Homo sapiens: one gene and its partners. The protein of the gene in region 1 interacts with the protein of each later gene in a pairwise test. Each region holds a gene or a part of one and is shown in the gene's direction. Other genes may lie near its edges.

Region 1 (7,029 bases):
ACAACTGGATTCAGAGATAGCAGACATCTTGTCTGGGGTGGCAGAGGAAACAGTTGTAAGGTCAGGGAAGTGCTCCCAGATGAAACCCCCTTGTTAGGGCTGGTCTCAGAAGGCTAGTGTCAAGTCTGAGTAATCAAGGGTGGAGGTCTGAAAGCTGGGATCGGAGACACCCTTTGGAATTATTCTCAGAGGGAGGAGCTTGCTTTTTTCACAGATGCTCCCTTCCAAGCATTGTCTTTATTGTTTGTTAGGTCTCAGCATTTCCCTTTCAGCCCTGCCCTGGGAGAGCTTCCTGGAAGAGTCTAGTTCTTCCAAGGCGTCTCTCCAGGAGGGAAGGAGTCTTCTAAGTTCATCTCAAAAGACTATGTGATGTTCTCTGGGGAATTTAGGTGGGTGGGCTCTAAATTCTTCTGAAATTATCAGTTTGCCTCCTGAGCCTCTATCTCCCCAAAGGATATCTGTGTGATTGTATCACCTGCTTATTCTCTGTAGATGGCTTACTGGTGAGCTCACAGAATCAGGATTTAAATAGATTGTTCTAGGCTGGAAGGGTGGAAAACCAAAACAAAAAGATACCATTTCAAAATAGGTAAATGTCTGGTTCTGTGTTTGGGTTCAAGAAATAAGTTATGTATATTTAATGTGGGAGAGACCTGGTTTGTTGAAAGTTCTTGTGAATGACACCTAGGTTTTGGGGATACACAAAAGTCATGGAAGACAACATAGGCTCTGCTTGCTAAAAAGGTACTGCATAAGCTGTCATATGTTGTATTAGCAGAAATATGAAGTCCAAATCAGAAATGGTAATCACTTCACTGAAATCTACTGCTAAGAGCACATCCATGAAGCACTGAAGACCTGAGAAATTTAACAGCGAACATAGCAGGCAAACTGAAGGAGGAAACATGGATTACAAAGTCAAAGCCCAACTTGGATAACCATAAGCAAGTTATTTAATTTCTCTAAGCCACATTTTTCTCATCTTTTATGGATGAAATACCCATTTTCCAGGGTTGTGATGAGAATCAAATGTGATAATGCCTGTGAAATGCTTAGCCAGTGAGAACTCTCTTAATAAATGAAGCTTGGGGCCTGGTGCTGTGGCTCACACCTGTAATACAGCACTTTGGGAGGCCCAGGCAGGTGGATCATGAGGTCAAGAGATCAAGACCATCCTAGCCAACATGGTGAAACCCCATCTCTACTAAAATACAAAAATTAGCAAGGTGTGGTGGTGTGTGCCCGTAGTCCTAGCTACTCGGGAGGCTTAGACAGGAGGATCGCTTAAACCCAGGAGGCAGAGGTTGCAGTGAGCTGAGATCACGCCATTGTACTCCAGCCTGGTGACAGAGTGAGACTCCGTCTCAATAAAATAAAATAAAATAAAATAAATAATGAAGCTAGTATAATCAAAAGAGAAGTGTTGCTATGAGAACCACTGTGCTAGTCAAGACTGATCTAATCTGCCCCAGGATGTAGGAGAACCACTTAATATTCATAGATGCTGTCTCTTTCTACAAAACCTCAGTATAATCCTGTCTCTCAAACTTTGTGCTGGCCAATTCCAACTGAATAAACCCAAACACTTTGCCAACTACCCATCTACCCTCCCCTCACTTATCCATTTATCCCTGTTTGTATCTTGTCTGCTTCAACCAGGCCCATCTCCACAATCTACACATTCTTTCCTCTTGGCTCTTGTTCATGCTGTTCCATCCATTTAGAAATGGCATCTTTCATCTCTACTCTGCAAACACAATTCAACTCAATTTGCCCAGGCCAACTCTTCCTCCTGATGTTCTTCCCCTAAGTTTAGGCTCCTTTACCATGCAGATTGTGTCTTTGAGCTTTGGGCAGCCAGATTTAGCCCAATTAGCCTCTAAATCTCTCACAACAGATATTATTTCTTTTCTATTCTCATTAGTACATGTATTTAATGTTTAGTAATTTCTGTTGAATGGAGTTTTATGGTCACAGTAAGAAAATGTTGGTACTTCACAGCGGAGCTGAAAGGAAAAGAGAACATTGTAGAAAGGATCTCAGTAACATCGAAATAATAATATTACATTGGGCCAGGCACGTTGGCTGATGCCTGTAATCCCAGCACTTTGGGAGGCCAAGGTGGGCAGATCACGAGATCAGGAGTCCGAGACCAGCCTGACCAACATGGTGAAACCTTGCCTCTACTAAAAATACAAAAGTTAGCTGGGCATGGTGGCATGTGCCTGTAATCCCAGCTACTCGGAAGGTTGAGGCAGGAAAATCTCTTAAACCAGGGAGGCAGAGGTTGCAGTGAGCCGAGATTATGCCACTGCACTCGAGCCTGCATGACAGAGTGAGACTCCGTCTCAAAAAAAAATAAAAAAAAATTTAATATTAGGTTGGTGAAAAGTAGTGGTAAAAACTGCAGTTACTTTTGCACCAATCTGATAATCAATTTTATATATCTTGTAAATGATATTCACTCTCATCTTAAAAGTTTAGCTTATATTAAATGTTTGATGTAAATAAAGTTGAAAGAAAGTTTCTTCTGTTAGGTGTGAAACATAAAAGATATACTCATAAAAGTGGTTCTAACCAGGGCCTTACTTAAGATGAGGTATTGTATGATTGTTGAATATTACCTATAACATAGTCGTATTTTCTATTCAATAGATATTTATTGAGTTACTGTGTGCCAATCATTCATTCATTCATTCACTCATCTATCCTTTCAATAAACAAAGACTTATTGAGGGTTTCCTTTGAGCCATGTACTGTCCTGGAAACTAGGAATATAAATAAGGATAAATAATTTTTTCCCTTTGCTAAGCTCACATTTTAGTGGGAAAAATGAATATAGGCGGATGAATTGTAAAATGTTGTGATAAATGATTTAATAGAGATATTACAGCAAATAAAGGTATTTACAAAATCTGAGCTTTTCAAGGGCTGTAAAAGTTTTTATTGGGTCCAATGATACAAAATGAAATAGCAATATCTGAATTGAGCATAAAGGTCTGGTGCAGTGGCTCACACCTGTAATCCTAGCATTTTGGGAGACTGAGGCAGACAAATCGCTTGAGCCCAGGAGTTTCAGATCAGCCTGGGCAACGTGGCAAAACCCCATCTCTACAAAAAATACAAAAATTAGCCTGGCATGGTGGCACGTGCATGTAGTCCCAGCTACTCGGGTGGCTGAAGTGGGAGGATTGCTGGAGCCTGGGAGGTCAAGGCTGCAGTGAGCCATGATCATACCACTGCCCTCCAGCCTAGGCAACAGAGCGAGACATTGTCTCAAAAAAAACAACAAACAAACAAACGAAACTAAATTGAACATAAATATTTAATTAAATGTCTAAAAACGTGGAATGTCAACTAAAGAAAATGAGTAGTATTTTGAAAACAACTTGTAGGTTGATTTTTCTGTCTTTGCAAGAACTCCTAAATAGTTGTGAATATTGCCAAAAGTCAGGTCCAGTTATAGTTATAACTTGCTCATAGCCAAATGATTTTGAAACCAAGATGAAAAGGAAAAGGGAAGAAAGGACATAGAGGGAGCAACCTATACAAAGGGGGTGTGTATAAAATAGCAGGGCAGGCTTAAGGAAGCTGAGTGAAGCTGTAATGTAGGATGAAGGTAGAGAATTAAAGTTGGGGTCAGATCAAGAAGGGCCTCACAGGCCATTTTAAGTAGGTTGTCCCTCATTCTGTACATGTTGAAATTTAGCAGAGTGTTTGTTCTATCATGTCATATATCAGATTTATGTCTTGAAAAATTCACTCTAATAATAGTTTTCAGGATGGATTAACATGGTAGAGACCATAGGCTGGGACCAAGTTGGCTTCCTAACATTCCAGGCAAGAGGACTGTGAGGATAACAGGGGGCTTGAGAGAGATTTAGGAGGTGAAACTGCAGGAGTTAGTGATTGGTTGTATATGGAAGGTTGAGAGGGAGGGAGGAGAATAAGTCATTGCTCCAGCATTCTGATTTGGATAATGGTGGTGCCATTCAGTGTGCTGAATGGAGGTGGGCTGGGATAAGGCAAATAATTATTTTGTTCATGTTGATTTTGAGGCTACATGTAAAGGAAGTTTTTTTTTTTGAGACTGAGTCTTGCTGTGTCGCCCAGGCTGGAGTGCAGTGGCACGATCTTGGCTCGCTGCAAGCTCCACCTCCCCGGTTCAAGTGATTCTCCCACCTCAGCCTCCTGAATAACTGGGATTATAGGCACCTGCCACCACACCCGGCTAATTTTTGTACTTTTAGTAGAGACGGGGCTTCACCACGTTGGCCATGTCTTGAACTCCTGACCTCATGATCCACCTGCCTTGGCCTCCCAAAGTGCTGGGATTACAGGCGTGAGCCACCGCACCTGGCCATAAAGGAAGATATTTATCAAAATTTGGCTGCCCACATCTGAAGCTCAGAGGAAGGGGATTGGGCAAGAGATTGAGATGTAGAAATCTTTGGTATATGGTAAGTGAAGCCACGGGCATGGCTATATTTCAAGATTGAAATGAAGGAACGAGAAAGAGCAGATACCCAAAAATTTGATGAAGAAGAAACAGGTAAGGAGCTGACAGGAGAAGCAAAACCAATGACATTCCTATCCTGGGACTTTAGAGAATTGCTGCTGTAGCAGCCATGGAAAGAAATTTTTTTTTTTTTTTTTTTTGAGTCGGAGTCTCGCTCAGTCCCCCAGGCTGGAGTGCAGTGGTGCGATCTCGGCTCACTGCAAGCTCCGCTTCCCAGGTTCACACCATTCTCCTGCCTCAGCCTCCCGAGTAGCTGGGACTACAGGCGCCTGCCACCACGCCCAGCTAATTTTTTTTTTTAATTTTTAGTAGAGACGTGGTTTCACTGTGTTAGCCAGGATGGTCTCGATCTCCTGACCTAGTGATCCGCCTGCCTCGGCCTCCCAAAATGCTGGGATTACAGGCGTGAGCCACTGCGCCCGGCCGGAAAGAGAATTTTAAGAAGACAGTAAGATGGGGCAGCAGAGTAACAGCCTCCGGGCCTGACACTGGAGCACCAGCCTGCAGGTGTGTTATTTTACAGAGAGCCAGCTGCACCGGCAGCATCACCAAACCAGAGCTGGAAGAGAGCAGCTGGCTTCACTCCTGGCTTTCAGGAAAGGGAATGTCTAAAGTTGCCTCCCTTATTTTTGGAATTTTGAACTGATAACCCTATTCTTACCCATCTGGCCAGACGATTCCTTAACTCGTGTTACACCTGCAGAATGAGTTTTAGATCTAGCTGTGACCTCTTCCCCCAGCCCCACCCCCATTGTCCCCTTGTGTGCCTTCAGGAATCTGATCATTCTTCTCTCCTGCTCCTTCCCAAAGGCTGCAGGAGCAGGTGTGAAGACGTGGATGTGCCAGATGCAGAGTCCTGACACTTTTCAACACATCTGCATATTAGAGGAAGTACATACCCATTGCTTGGTGGTTTCATGTCTAATGTGGTATGAGTGTGACAAAGAGAGGGAGAAAATTTGGACTAGCCAAAGAAGCCAGTCAGGCGTGGGGTTTGAAGGGCATCGTGGGCGGCTGTCATTTGCTCTCTGCTTGTCACAGCCCCTTGCCCAGGGCTTGACCAGTGAGGTGTATGTGCTGGTCACACCCATCTCAGCAGATCTGTCAGCTTTCCCGCTTTTGTTAAAGGGTGATATCATGCTTCCTGGGGGGAGCACTGGAAGACAATGCTCGGCCACTTTCCTCCAGATACAATAGGCGGAGTCAGGAAGGCAGTATTGACATTGCTGGGGCTGGGGAGGCACTCACTGCTCTGCGGCCGTCAGATGGTGAACCAGCTTAACCTTGGCACACAGGGCCTGGGTTGTGCAAGGCGTCTGGCTGCAGAGCCAAAGGGGACTCCACCCTGGGGACAGGAGTGCTTTAGACATCTGGGAATCTGGGATGGGCTTCAAATTCTGATCCCTGTGTCAGAAACAACCACAAAACAATAAGAGTACCAGTAATAACAAAAATGACTACCCTAGGTTGAATGCCTTTATGTGCCAAGTGTTAAATATGATTTTTAATATTTCACAACTTTACACTATAGGTATTATTATTTTTTTAATAGACAGGGAAACCAAGGCTCACAAAGGTTAAGTGACATGTCCAAGGTTAAAATGTAAGTGACCAGCCAGGTGTGGTGGCTCGTGCTTGTAATCCCAGCACTTTGGGAGGCCAAAGCAAGCAGATTGCTTGAGCCAAGGAGTTCGAGACCATCCTGGGCAATATAGGGAGACCCATCTCTACAAATAATACAAATATTGGCTGGGTATGGTGGCACACACCTGTGGTCCCAGCAACCCGGGAGGCTGAGATAGATGGATCGCTTTAGCCTGGGGGTTTTAGGCTGCATGAATGTCGTGATCATGCCGCTGCATTCCAGCCTGAGTGACATAGTGAGACCTCATCTTAACAACAACAAACCGGAAAATGGCGGCCATCCATTATTTTGGATGCCTAACATTTCAAACTTTCAAGAACTGCCGTGCTTTCCCTCTAGGTGATTCTGATGGGTCTGCCAATCACTGGTCACAGAATGTCCCAGCCAACTAACAACAGCAGTTGGTTCAAACAGAAGATGCACAACCCAACAGGGCCAGTTAGACTCTTTCCCTGGGAATTTATGAGCACTTTGAAAGCAAAAGCCTCTCTTTCTTCATAGAGGACACTGTATCCCTGGAGCTACCAACTTCGCTGACCACTTGAAGGAAGCTAGTCTTTAGTACGAGAGAATGAGGCCAATAACAAAAGATGGACCAAGACAGGCACTCTGATAGCATTTGAGACGTGGGTCCAAGGATTTTCAAACACGCAGCCCTGCCTCTTTCAGTTCTGTGAGCTAGTTTCTTTTATTTGTTTAAGCTATTTTGAGTTAGCTTCTATCCCTTGGAAGTGAATCATCCTGACTGACCACATGTCTCAGTAGGAAATGATGGAGACAAGAGTTACACTGAAAAATGACCTGAACCCGAATCCTGGGCTCTTTAAAACACCTCACTGTGCTGCCTTCGAACTAGTGTTTCATG
Region 2 (7,029 bases), on another chromosome or scaffold:
CTGGTGGCTCTGGCCCAGAGTCTTTCAGGAGGTTGCAGTCAAGACTTAGACTGGGGCTGCCATTATCTGAAGGTTTGACTGGGGCTGGAGGACTCGCTTCATAATGGCTTGTTCACATGGCTGTGGGCAGATGCAGCCACAATTCCTTGCCATGTGGACTGGTATCTCTCTATAAATCAGATAATCTTTCTTTGACAAACATTATTTCATACCCTCTTATCTCCATTCTAAATGATCTTCAACAGGTAGTGTCTCCTAACCTTTTACTTAGTTCTCTCTACCACCCAGCCTAGCCAGTATGTTAATGAGTTAGCATCTGTAAAGCACAAATAAAGAGCTACTATTTAGAGGAGTCCTTTGTAAATCAGATAATTATTTTGTATTATGAATAATTACAAATTACACCCTAATTGATCTGTATAGTAAATTAAGGTTTTTGCATGGGAGATTCCTTAAGAGGCTTCAGTATGAGCAAGTTCTGAGGGATCTTGGAGGTTCCTTTGTCTTGTTTTGACTTAAGAATCTTTTTTTAGAGTAATCTTGAGCACTCCTGAAAGAAGCTAACTATGGTATAGAAAAGGATAACCACCACGTAGCTGAAGGCTAAGATTCAGGTCCGAACTCTCGAACTAACTAGCTGTAACAAGCTGTGTAACCCTGAGTAAGTTACTCTGCCTCTCTGGGCCTATGGCTTCATCCATAAAAACAGAGGCGATGGGCTAGAATCACTAGTCCCTTCCAAGTCTAATAATCTGTCTTTCTAAATGGAATTACCTGGTCCCAATAGGAATGGTCTCATCTTAAACTAGGTTGAGCTATATGTTTCTGCTGGTCTTTCACATTGGTAATTTTCATAAACAGCGTAAACAATTATGACACACCCTGCGGCAGTCTCTAATTACAGTGTTCTTCCTTTCAGATCCAGTCTATTCAAGGCATTGAGAATGTACCTGAAGAGCTCCTGGATAAAAATTATTCACTGTGTGATTTGTTTTTAAAAACTTGCTTCATGCCCTACAGAGGTGCCAGCTATTTCTGTTGATACTATGTATAATTTATTAATCTGGAGAATGTTTAAAATTTTATATAATTTAAAGGTAACAGATATTATTGTACATAGTTGTATTTTGTAGTTTCTTCTGTAAATATGTATTTTTCATAATGTTTAATATTAAGCTTTATATAATACTATTTTTCCACACTAAAGTGTTCATGACTTGTTCTACATAAAACTAATTCAACCTGTATGACAGGACTACTGGTAAAATGCATATGGAGGTGGTGGCAGAGACAATCCTTCAGGCCATGTTTTCTACCTGTTTTGATATTCACTGGACAGGAAAAAGGGCAGGGCTAGAGAGAGCAAATACTATGGCTAGATTTGCTGCATTGCTGTCCCATGAATCTCGAGAGCCAACAGACATGTCCTAACTTGCTATTAGGACAAATGTGACAGTCAAAAAAAGGATTAGAGGGAGGGAGAAAAAAGAATTAAGCAGTACCAAAGCTGAACTAGATGCTTGTGTCTGAACTAGTTGCTCTCTCTCTCCTTTCTCCTTCCAGGGATTCAAGCCAAAGTGGTCAGCTCAGGGATCATGTAACTTGCAGTGCAAGCCCAGGATGGTAGGATGCAGGGTTGAGGGTTCTGATAGAGAATGATTCCAAACAGAAGTGATGAATTCCTTTTGTTAATAAGATGCCAGCTATACCCAGACTGGAAACATAACATGCAAAGCACTATCTACAGTGATTAGAGATCCTTTCATTGCATTCATGGTGTGGAGTGTGAACATCCACACCCATACTGTAATGTATTTATACACACTAGTTTCTGTCTCATTTTCAGTGGTCTCCATTCCTAGAAAAGTCACAATTATCCATTCCTACTTGATTTCCCATTAAAAGAATATTATGGTAGCAGATTGTGCCCCTCATTAAAAGGCTTAATGCCAACATTTTCATAGAAATGACTACAAACATCATATATAGTAAATTTAAAAACAATAGCAAAAACAAAAACAGTGGTCTTCAGTAAAATTTTCAAAACTTCTTTTAGTAAATCAATGAAGTCAAAATGTCAAGTAATCACCCAAAGTTGCATTTAATAACAAAAGGCACTACATACTGTACCAAGTTTATCTTCAATATTTGTGCCTTACTTACTTTGACTATAACAAATTCCAATGAGTCAGAAAGTATTTCCTTCATCAAGGTCCAGTTCCGACAGCATTCCTGGGAAAAATTTGAAAGGAGTTTGTACGGAATCTTCATAGATACCTGAGAAGATGAGCTGGAGATGTTTGCCTTTTTCACACTACAAATTTTTCTGTAATAAACTTGGGAATTAGAGGTCAAGTTTGTTGATGGCATAGCTTCCTTTGCATAAAGAGTATATTTCTTTTCAAAGTATATATTTTTGTAACCTACCATAAAGTCCGTAAGTGAATACAACGAATGTAATTGACATAATAATTGAAAATCATTGACTATACCTAAAATAGTTCTTTATAATTAAATAACTCTACACCCAATCTGGAAATTTTTCCAAGGTTATTTGAAGTTTACAAAAATGTGAAGCATAATCATAAGCTTCAAAGATTCACAGTTTCATTGTGCTCAATGCTCTTGTGAAATGACAGTCTTAAGCTCTGATTCTGTATCAAGGAACTAAGTGAATCTTCTGGAAATGAAAAGGAACAACATATGTGTAAGTGCAGTAGATGTACCACCAGCGAGAAAATAGAGGTCAGAGATCTACAACGTGTGGCATCCATTAGAAATCACCTTTCCTACATTGAAAAGAAAAAAGAGAAAAAGCAGAATTTTACACTAATGTTGCTTGATGCAAAGCACATTAATGCTTGGAAGGATACATTCATTTTCGACTTTTCATTCACTCAGAAAACTTCTAGTAAGTATCTGCAACCTGCTAGGCACTGTTCCAGAATCTACACATTTCTACTCACATAAAGAGAATCCTCATAAAGTTAGGATTGTTGTTACTACCTTCAATTGAGCTTAAAAGACAGCCTCATCAAGGGAATGGGATAACTGAGCCAGTCTAGGACAGTGGTCACCTTCCACAGGCCACACACTGGAAAGTGCTAATGCTACTTTAATAGCAAACCTCTGGATCTAGGAGAGAGAGCAATTAATTGCACAAACCAGGAGTTAAAACCATAAAAAAAACCTATGCATCTGTAATAGTAAATAACACTCACGTACTCTGGCAACATCTAGGGTAGTATCAGAATTATGTAAATGGACATGACAGGGAAAAATCGTAGGTTTTTTTAGTCTAATCCAACCCAGGAAATGTTTATTCCTACCCTACACCTAATTTTAAACCTTCTTAGCAACAAATATTTCACTATTCGCTCCTACTCCTGGGAAGACTAAATATATAATTGACTTATTTATTAAATTTAGGAGAAAAAAAAAGTTTTCCTTGACATTCAGCTCTATTGGATTTATTTCCATTTAATTGCATCATGTGTTATGTCTTGGTAAACACTCCATTTCCTGTCTTGGTGGGCATCCTGTCTGTGTACCTGTGCAGTACACTTTAATCATCAAGACTTCAAAGTGCTTTTGAGCTATCAAATCTTGGGAGAGTCCCATCTAGCATCTTAATAATTATTTTTCCAAGTTCGTTATAATTAACTCCTTTAACCTCATCTCATTAAATCAATTTTGTATTGTCATTCTGTTGTTCTCTGGAAAGCAGCCAATTGTTCAGCTCTTGAATCAGAATTTTCAAAGACTCACCTCTCTTACCTGGGCTTGCACATATTTGTCCTAAGTAATTCTCTATCCCTTAAACCTCTGAGTCCCTCTGTTTTATTACTTGCCCCACTCCTCCTACTTGAATATGTTTGTTTTCCCAGTTGAATGTGATTTTTATCTACTGTTCATATTATCTTTTATACCCATGAGTATAATTTCATAGTCCTTTCAGGTTCCACATCATCAAAGAGATGACCATAATTTCACTTTTTTTTGAAATGAAGTCTTGCTCTGTTGCCCAGGCTGGAGTGCAGTGGCACAATCTCAGCTCACTACAACCTCCGCCTCCCAGGTTCAAGCGATTCTGCCTTAGCCTCCCAAGTAGCTGGAATTACAGGTGCCTGCCACCATGTCTGGCTAATTTTTGTGTTTTTAGTAGAGATGGGGTTTCACCATGTTGGCCAGGCTGGTCTTGAACTCGTGACCTTAGGTGATCCACCCACCTCAACCTCCCAAAGTGCTAGGATTACAAGAGTGAGCCACCGCACCTGGCCAATTCACTTTTAAATACTAAAAGGCACACAGCACACAGACATTTTCGGGGCAGTTTTCTTTGGGAGGGTCTTTGATAAATTTTGTAATCACCTCTCGGAAGAAAGCCCAAAATGACATGTGAAAATAATATTAAACCATTTACCAGATGTCCAGCAATATAAAAATAGACCTCACATGCTACCCTTCACATGCTGATTCTCTTGCCTTGCTGTTTAAGGATCCAGTTTCTTATGTTAAACATTTTCCTTACCTTTTGCAATAATATTATTGGCCATATACTAAATTCTCATTCACTTAGCTTTCTAAGAATTCTTTGAGGTTGGAATCCTGAAATCATAAAGCTACCAGATCTGCACAACAGCAGTGGTAGTATCTGAGCCCAAACTCTGAGACGCTCTAGAGTTTTAGTTTACAAACATGAGCCAGACCAAACCTGACCTGGTGAAAATCAATAGGTAATAAACTGCTTGTATATGATAGCAGTTCAAGGGCTTTCTGGGTTCCATTTCACTGAGGAAATGAAAATATAACTGATTAGCCAAGACAGAGTGGCAATAAGGAATAACTGATCCTCCTCCAAGTTGCAGTGAGCAAGCCCTCAAGCCTACCTCATTCCTGAAGAGTTGAAGGAGAAAATGCCGTGCTAATTTTCTGCCCTGCTATTTTTAACCTGAAATTTAGAATTACATCAGGTATTCAAAGAATGTTCCCTATCAAAGGAAAATCTGTAAACGATGACTGCAAAAAGCAAGTGAAATGATGCAAAGAGAAAATATTTGCAAAACAGAATCTAACCAGACATCATCATGAAGATAAAATGGCATCTCTTCTGTGTGGCCTGGGTGTGCTTGGACAATCCTGTCACACGTTTCTATTAGGACATGTTGCCCTTTTGAGGATTCACTCTATGTTGGCCAGATGGTTTAACTGATTAAACAATTGAATCAATTTATTTTGCTTTTTGAATTGACCAGATATTTAACTAAATGTACTGGGTTTGGCATTTTAGACACACTGCCTTAGATTCTTGTAGTGCATGATGACTTTGAAAATGTTTGGCCATTTTAGTTAAAATGCAGGGTAACATTTGATGCAGCCATGATAACAGGAAAAATCTGTTCTGTTCTAAAAATGTTTCTAGCAATAGAAGTATTTCTGGCTAAGAGAATACTCTTGACTTGTAGGGAGGCTCCCTCGGAATAAATGTATGCAACACAAATAAGGCATTTTATTTTTTAAAAGATTGTCTATATAAGATACACTTATTAAATAAAGAAATTGTTGGTGAATGCTCTGAAAATAGAGGCTTATGTAATGGAAATAAGAGATTAACAGGTTTACCAAAGATTATTTTTATAACCTCTATGCCAATTCACATGATCTTATATAAGACACCAAAATAAGTTATTCAAAACTGTGAATAATGTCAGACAAATGCAATGTGTCCCTTCTAGAACAGTCACAAAAAGAATTGGTTATAGCTATTTTAATAAATAATATCCTCACCCCAAGAACAAACGTTCAGTTATGCTGAGATGTTCTAATAGCTGTGTGCGTAGATAAGCACCTCCATCAAGAAAGGAACACATGAAATTGTGGCTTTAAGAGTTTGTGGCAGAGTTGGACAGCATTCCATCTGCAGGTTAGTAGGAAAGCCTGTACCAGCCTTTGTGGAATGTCCTAGTCTGCCACACTGACAAGAGGGTGCACCAGTGCTCTACTGGAAGAGTATTTCTGGTTTTCTATGCAGGACTATTGGGCTTATAAATTCCTCAAGAACAAGGACCAAGTCTTTAATCTCGTCTCGACTCCTACCTTGTGGAAATTAGTGCACAGCTCATAGACATTCTACACACACTTCTTGAAATTGCTCCTGGCCTGATATTTTGGATGTTAGGTAGTCAGTGTCCAATAATACTGTTGTCCGTGCAGGTTAATCTAGCCATTCCTTCATTTGTGTGAAGCATAAATAATGTAAGTAAATACAGCAACTGAACTTTTTATGTTCTATAATAGAGCACTTTTATGTTTTTAATATCATTTATTATTTCTCTGAAAATCCAGTTAAGATGGCAGATGATTCTATTTTTTCATATTATAGCATCTACCCACAATATTTCTAACTAACTGTATTTGAACAAAGAACTTCCTTAGTCTTTCAATTTAAATTATGTATTTGCTTAATACATTTTTATATTTGTAACTGTGGTAAAAAAAAAATCTATATAGCATCTTGCATACATTCTCACTAGTACAGGAATAAAACTGCAGTTTGTTGAAGGAGAGTGCTCTGTCTTCTATTCACCTGCTCCTCATTTATCAATTTTTGTCATCTGTCTGTTCAGGAGAAAGGCCAAAAGTGACTGCTTTAAAATGAGAAAAATCTTCCAGGACATTATCATGAAGAATATAGTTGTCTTAACCTTTAGTCCTGTAAGTACTGAGTTGGTTACCTACAGTATTGTGTACATAATAATAGACTCTCCAGCTGACCGTCTCCAACTAAATTCCTGTTTTCAGTTCTTTACTTCATTAATAACCAAAATGTCATCTGTTACCAACAGTGTTGGTGTACTCTCAGAGGTACTGCCCTGGCTAGATTTCCACTGAGCCCTTCAGAGACACTTCACACATTTGCGGACAGTGTGGCATTTGGTAAAGAGACGCCATGACTATTTCCAGAGTTATGAGTTTGCCCTTTTGCCTTTTTCATATTTTAGTGGAAAGATCACTGTCCTTCACAACTCC
Region 3 (7,029 bases), on another chromosome or scaffold:
AATGTCCTACTAAAAACCTGCCTGTGACCTTTATCATTGCTAAAGTTTGAAATGTACTTTGTTACAGGAAAGACTACGGCTAGGGCCTATATTATCTTTTTCTCTTTTGTTCTGTGTAAGTAAGTATAGGGGCAGAGTAGTTAGCTTGAACTTAGTTCTTTCTTTGTTCTGGACTATTTGCTATCCTCTCACCAGTGACAATTAACCAGTATAGAAATATAGATGTTTCTACATTGTTCATATACTTGAACATATATTTCTTTATGTAGATACTCACACATAAACTAGTTATATATTTGTGGGTTATATATACTAGTCAATCTATCTATCTGTCTATCTATCTATCTATCTATCTATCTATCAGTTCTCCATGTTTGTCTATTTGGCGTTCCCATGAACTTCAGACCTTCGCCTGTGTTCTCTTTTCTCCATTTGGTTACGTATCATTGCCTACTATGTGTTGATCACTCTGATTCTCCATCTCTAGACTCATCCCTCAGAAACACGGAACTTACTACCTTTCCTAAATCCAGACATTAACATGCTCCCCAAGTCCTGAAATTTTGCTTTGTAATAATCTCTAATAACTTCTTGCTTTGACACCTCCATTGCCATCATCTTAATTCATGGCTTTATTATTTCTCACCTGTAAAATTGTAATAGTTTTTTTAATCAGTCTGAAGTCTCATCCTTTTTTTAATGTAATCTACAGCTTAAAAAGTAAAATAAAAAGTGAAGGGTTACTGATTTCTTCTCATTGCCTTTGGTATAAATTCTAATCTTTTTTGCCAGAGAAACTGGTTCCACTAATGATCTGGGGGCTAGGCCTGGAGCTGGGAAGGGATCTTTTTTCTTTTCTTTCTTTCTTCCTTTCTTTCTTTCTTTCTTTCTTTCTTTCTTTCTTTCTTTCTTTCTTTCTTTCTTTCTTTCTTTTTTCTTTCTTTTTCTTCTATGATTGATTAAAAGAAAACAAACAGGAGGTAGTTTTAACACCCACCTCTATACTTTCTCAAGGTGTTTAAGGTTCTGGGCAAATCCTACTTCTTCTATTATGTTCTCTTATGTCACTTTTGCCACAAAATATTTCCATTGAATTGCACACTTTTTATCACCTTTTCTTGGCATTTTTCAAGTCATTTCAATCTGCTCTTTTTTGTGATGATGATTGATGATGATGATGACATGTGAATTAGTGGATTTCTTGACATTGTAACCTACATGAAATCAGGTATAGGAGACACAAAAGGCATAAACTCATAGTTCCCATACCTAATTTTTCACCAGACACTGAATAAATCATAGATTAAAAAAATAAAACTGCATATTGTAGTGACAAAGGAAAGGAAAATTTTCAAAGAGGGAAGTCAAAAAGAGGGAGAATATGAGATAAAAAAATTAACCAGAGGCGAAGTGGGAGGATGAAGACAGCAGGACTATTTTGTCCAGATTAAATTAAGTTGATTTTGGATCTAGATGTTTACAGTCTTGCCTTTTTGTTTTTGTTTGTTTGTTTGTTTGTTTTTTCTTTGCTCCCTTTCTTACTCTCCTTATCTCACCTCTCGTCTGGAAAGAGCCTCCTGACTTCCTAAAAGTTCATAGTTTGAGAATGTTTTTCCTAAATTTTCTTTGATCTGCTCTTTGGACATTCTAGGTAATGTAATTTGGAGGGTCAATTTTATTTTTCAGATACACATACCCATAGGAGAAAAAGCAAGGAATGGGAGGGAAATACAAATGTAGCGGAGTGATAACACAAACAGATCAGGTCCAGTCATGGCAATTGCTGGTTTGAACACTGATGCTAGTGCTCTGGGATTGCTTGCAAGGGCAGATGGAATATGGTGCACCCTAGGTGTTGCATTATTTGCACGACAAAAGTTTGTAGAGAGCTGGGAATAATTTCTTTACAGACAGTGTGGTGATGAATGTCAATCTGAGTAGGTAAGGGGCAGAGATTTGTACTGAGGTTGATTCATTCTCTTGGTAAATACACAATGTTCACAAAGGCAAGGTTTCATCTTCAGACCATGTGTGTATATGTCACCTTGGTGCAGAGAGAGAAATTTTTCATCAGTGCTGACCTTTGATTTTTTTTTCTAGACATCTTATAGATTTATGTAGTTATTTACATGGGAAACAATTAGAATGGAAATTTAACATATCTTCAGTTTAAAATTAATTTCTGTCTAGTCTAAATATCTTTGTAAGTACTAGATACTCAATCCCATAGCAGTGGCCTTTTACCAAAGGCTTAGTGCTATGACTTTTGCATACATAAAGACCTCACTTTTTAAGATATGATACACCAGAAAAAAAATATGGCAAGACTTTAGCAATATGATTTGATGCCTATTTCTATATAATACCCAAATATACAGGAATAAAAATTATGGCAATCACTGGATTTTGTGTACCTGGCTCTAACCAATATTTATATTAGAAAATATCTAATTATTGTCTAAAATATTTAATCTTCATTCCTGTTTGTATGTCAGTGTGCTACTTCAATATCAGTCTGTTAAAAGAGTCTAGGAATGACTACTATAAGCAGAGAATTATATGTTCAGGAATCACAACAAAAAACAAGAACAAATAGAGAAACAAAAGCTTTCCTACTCTTTCATCTAGGACAAGAATAAATACACATAAAGTCAATATTAGTGAAGTAAACAAGCATCTTCTATATCCATTCATAGTACCTTCAATTGATTGATTTCTTAACAGACAATCAGCAAAATTATCAGTTTTTATTAGAGATTTTAGTAGAGACCGAGCTTAAACAAATATATTCTATGGTGCTTAACTCTATAGTATTTAAAGATTCAATATTTATTTCCTCTAAAAATGAGTCAAGTGTCTGAAAGGAAAAAGCCACCTAACTGAAACTTCAGTTTCTACTATACAGGGTATTTATTATAAAACTGTAATTACAATGCAATTATATTGAAGTATAAATGATCATCATTCATTTATTTAAGAATATAATCAAAATTTGCATACCTGGAAGAAAACCATCCACCCTCCAAAATAGGGATTTGCTAATGTAGGAGTAGAAGGCAAAAGTTGAGGGTAACTCAGGTAACACACTCATACGTATTAGGATATGAACAGCTGGTATAGCAAACTTGATAGAAATCACTGATAGACAAGAAGACATTCTCTGCATTTTAAATTAAAGTACAATTTGTCTGTGGTCATTCAAGAGATAGTTTAGAGAAACCTATACAAATAACAATGATGCTAAGAGACAATATCAAAATCACAATAAATATCATGGCAATACAGTGTGGCCACTATATTTTAAACACATCCACTTGATGAAAAATATAATAATTTACTGATAAAACATATTAAGCATAATAGAAAATGAGGCAGAAACCACTCCAAGCTGGGAAACATCATGACATCTGTAGTGATAAATATTTTGAAAATCTAACTCTATGAATCTTGTGATTTTTAGCTAAATCAATTTTCACCCTTGAGACCCAATTTCCTCATCTATAAAGTGTTGTAAGCATTAAAAGTTATAATATTTGTGAAAATGCTTTGAAATTATGTGATACTCTGAGAAGTAAATTTTTTCATGTGAGCCCATGAAATCAGAGCACATAGCCTTTTAGCATAAACTTGATTCCAAATGATATCTCTTCCTTTCAGACACTGTGAGCAGATAAAGGGATAGTTTAAGGTTAAGTGATAGAGGCATAATCCCTTATAGGCCTTTGAATTCTTTTAACTTTGCATTCTTTATTTCAGAGATTTTTCAGGCTTCTCCAGATTCTACAGTCTAAATAGTTTGTAAATCCACACACTTCTACTTTGCCAGGGATTTCTTAGTGTAAAAATATCCTGAAGTCTCACCTGCCTTCAATCCTTACTGTGTCCATACCCACCATTACCAGGATAATCTTTGTAAAAGGCAGAACTTACCTTTGTCCATTCCTCTTTTAAAAGCTCCTATTGGTAGAAAATATACTGAACCCGTGATTTGATACCAAGTATGTTTTGGCTCAACTTTTATGAAAACAAATATTTAATTAGAATATACCAACATTTATGAGTTTTCCTTAAAGATAAATTTTGGAGGAAAAAAACTCCATTAGACCAATTTAATTCCCTGATGATTATATATATATTACCTAGTGAAATCCTTGGCAGTTTTTCCATTTTAATTTTAATTTTACTGAACTAATGTTTAGCAGCATCACTTTCATTTAATTTTTACAATAACTATTAGATTCATGAATCCATTTTACCCATGTCAAGTTCTACTGAATATAGCTTATGCTTGGAATTTTCCTTTGTGATTATTACTTTTCTAAAGGTAATTCTTCTTTTCAAACAATACAGATCTAAATTTTCCAAAACCATTTAAATTCTTCTCTTTGGCCAGAAACATTTTCTGTGTGTAGTTTTGGCTACCGCTAGTTTAGTTTTTTTAATTGGTTTTGTGTCTCAATGCTACAAAAAATATAATTTATGTAATTTTTCATTTTTGTCAAACTTAAATCGGGCAATATTAACCATTCTCAATTTTTTGTTGTGTTGAAATTTCTATCAGTGACATTAATGTGGAGATTGACAGCTCTTTGAGCTAGATTCATTTTGAAATTTTAAGACTTTCGATTATTTCTTATCTAGCCAATAGAAACTTTAGAAACACTTTTAAGACTGCTTGATAGCCTGGAATTATTATGTTTGAATTCTCATTCATTTGTATGGTATTCCTCTTATTAGCTTTCACACTTAGTACCAATTTCTTATTCATTATTGGAGCAAAAAGTAAAGAGAAGAATCAAGGTGATAAGTTTAAAATCTTCTCAATGTAAAATAGTGTGTGGGGAAAGTGTCAAATCATCCTACTTTGGTCTTTGTGCATTTAGGAAAAATAAAAGCAATTAGCATTGCACACACATATGTAATTGAATCTCTTCAGATTTGTCTGGCTTTATCTCTAACCACTTTGTGACTCTTTTTGTAACTTGCATTTTTCTAAAAATGTGACCTTGTTTGGTCTTCCTACTGTTGGCCATGCTGTTTTTCCTTCTCTCCACATCTTTTTATCAATGGTGCAAATTATAAATTGTATTCAAATTTACTGTAAAGATCATGTCCTCTAGACAGCCCCTATCCCACTTGTATAACCCTTGCTCTTCAGCCCCTTTCACACCTGCATAGGTATTCTTCTGCTGTGATGATCCTTTGAATAATTCTCTTGGAGTTCTCTTTACCAGGCTCTCTTGCAGCAACTGGTGAGCTCATGTAGGCTATCACTGGGTCTCTGCTTATTTGCCAGTGCCTGCAGGTCCTCAGTACCTGTTTGCTGAACAAACGAATGGTCTGTCAGCTTAACCCAACTCTGTATGTAGAAGGCACTTAATAATTCTTAAAAACAATTTTGATTCTGTCCTTTTATTGTTATTTATGGGAATTATTTATGGTAAAAATTTCTACATAATAGAAAATTTGGAAAATGTCAAGAAATAGAAGGAAAAAGAAATTGCTTAGAGCCCATGCTAACATTTTGTTTTTCTTCCTCTATCTTTTGATCACATGCTGTGTATGAAATTTCATGTTCAATTTTTTCCCAAGTAAACCTTGATTATTCTAGACAATTTGAAAAATATAGAAATGAATAGAAAAATAAGAATTTCAGGTTTCCAGTTCTCAGGATCTAAAAACTTTTTGAGTATTTCATTTGACTAGGACAACTAGATCTATTCAGTTATTTATTAACTTATTAGTTCATTTGATAAACAACTATTTTGTGAGTGTTTTCCATGTAATTTGGGCTGAGGACACCTATCCCATGAAGCCCGTATTTTCTATCAGTGGCTTCTTGGAGATGGTGTTTTAAATCTTCCAAAATCTTCATCAGCACCCCAAAACTTCCTCCTCAAAGTAACAACATACCTTGCTACAGATAATTATTGGTGTTATCAATGTTTTATAAATTATAAATTTAAAAATCACTATCTTAAGATCTATATATAACATATTAAGTAAAACTTATATTCTTACAAGACTTCCTCCAGGTCCCTGTTACAACCAGATTTTCTTTGCAGACTTTTAAATTATGGAAGTTCTGGTGCTGCCACTGAGTTGTGTAGATTATTATTAGATATTCAATAAATAAAGTTGGTAGATGTGAAGAGGTACTAGACAATAGTCCTATTTTGTTTTGGTTTGTTTGTTTTGTAATTTATTCTGAAAAAATGTTTATGTGGAGAGAAAAGGGAAAACATACAGAAATACACAGCACACAAACAAATTCTTACTTTTTTTTGGTAGTCTTTCTAATTTTCCAAGGTCACCAGCTAATAGCAAATGAGAGTTGTAGGGGGTGGGGTGAAGGCTGGGGTCTTAATCGGGGTCTATCTGATTCTAGATAGACCAGATTCTAGATTTTCCACTCGGTTACTCAATCTTCTTAGTGGTCAGTTTAATAACCTGGAATTTAAGACATGACTGTGTGATGATGGGCAAATCACAGCAGGACTGAATGGGAGCTGGTAATTTCTCAGAGGTTGTTTGTGTGACATATGCATGTAAGTTCATTCACCTGATTTAGCTACTTACATGAACCATTGTGCACTGAGCTGCTTCTATATCTTTAGCATATTCTGTATCTATGTAAAATTCACATAAGATTGTATGACTTTTATAAAAAACAAAAAGACATCTTTGATTAATTTGTCTTCACTATGAATACTGATGTGATGTGTTACAATCATCCTGAAAAGGAGGCTAACAAAGGACAGGACTGAGTCTGTCTTGAGGTGAGTGATATGATGGAAAGAATGGATTTTCCCCCACCCAACTCATTTTTGATATTACATAAAGTGAAAAACATTAAATAATTCACCAAAGTATCTAGATTTTTTTTTGTTTTTGAAGTGCAAGGGAAGTAACTTGACCTTTGTTAAACACTTTGATCATGGAAAACACATAAGGTTCTCATCTTATTCCAGGAAGTGTAGACACTAGATAATCTTTTCATAGTCATCCAAAAAGCATATTAAGTGAACC

The links. Proteins that work in one complex are often made in the same cells at the same time.
Region 2: the proteins of TEK (region 1) and PTPRB interact in binary tests that used the Homo sapiens proteins (3 or more experiments, as listed by UniProt).
Region 3: the proteins of TEK (region 1) and PTPRC interact in binary tests that used the Homo sapiens proteins (3 or more experiments, as listed by UniProt).

The regions. Positions count from the first base shown.
Region 1 is NC_000009.12:27,112,221-27,119,249, forward strand, and holds part of TEK (angiopoietin-1 receptor isoform 1 precursor), read left to right. Parts: intron 1-7,029. UniProt on the Homo sapiens protein: Tyrosine-protein kinase that acts as a cell-surface receptor for ANGPT1, ANGPT2 and ANGPT4 and regulates angiogenesis, endothelial cell survival, proliferation, migration, adhesion and cell spreading, reorganization of the actin cytoskeleton, but also maintenance of vascular quiescence.
Region 2 is NC_000012.12:70,515,402-70,522,430, reverse strand, and holds the end of PTPRB (receptor-type tyrosine-protein phosphatase beta), read left to right. Parts: exon of another isoform or gene 1-919; coding exon 920-942; 3' UTR 943-6,561; downstream 6,562-7,029. UniProt on the Homo sapiens protein: Plays an important role in blood vessel remodeling and angiogenesis. Not necessary for the initial formation of blood vessels, but is essential for their maintenance and remodeling. Can induce dephosphorylation of TEK/TIE2, CDH5/VE-cadherin and KDR/VEGFR-2.
Region 3 is NC_000001.11:198,642,039-198,649,067, forward strand, and holds part of PTPRC (receptor-type tyrosine-protein phosphatase C isoform 1 precursor), read left to right. Parts: intron 1-7,029. UniProt on the Homo sapiens protein: Protein tyrosine-protein phosphatase required for T-cell activation through the antigen receptor. Acts as a positive regulator of T-cell coactivation upon binding to DPP4.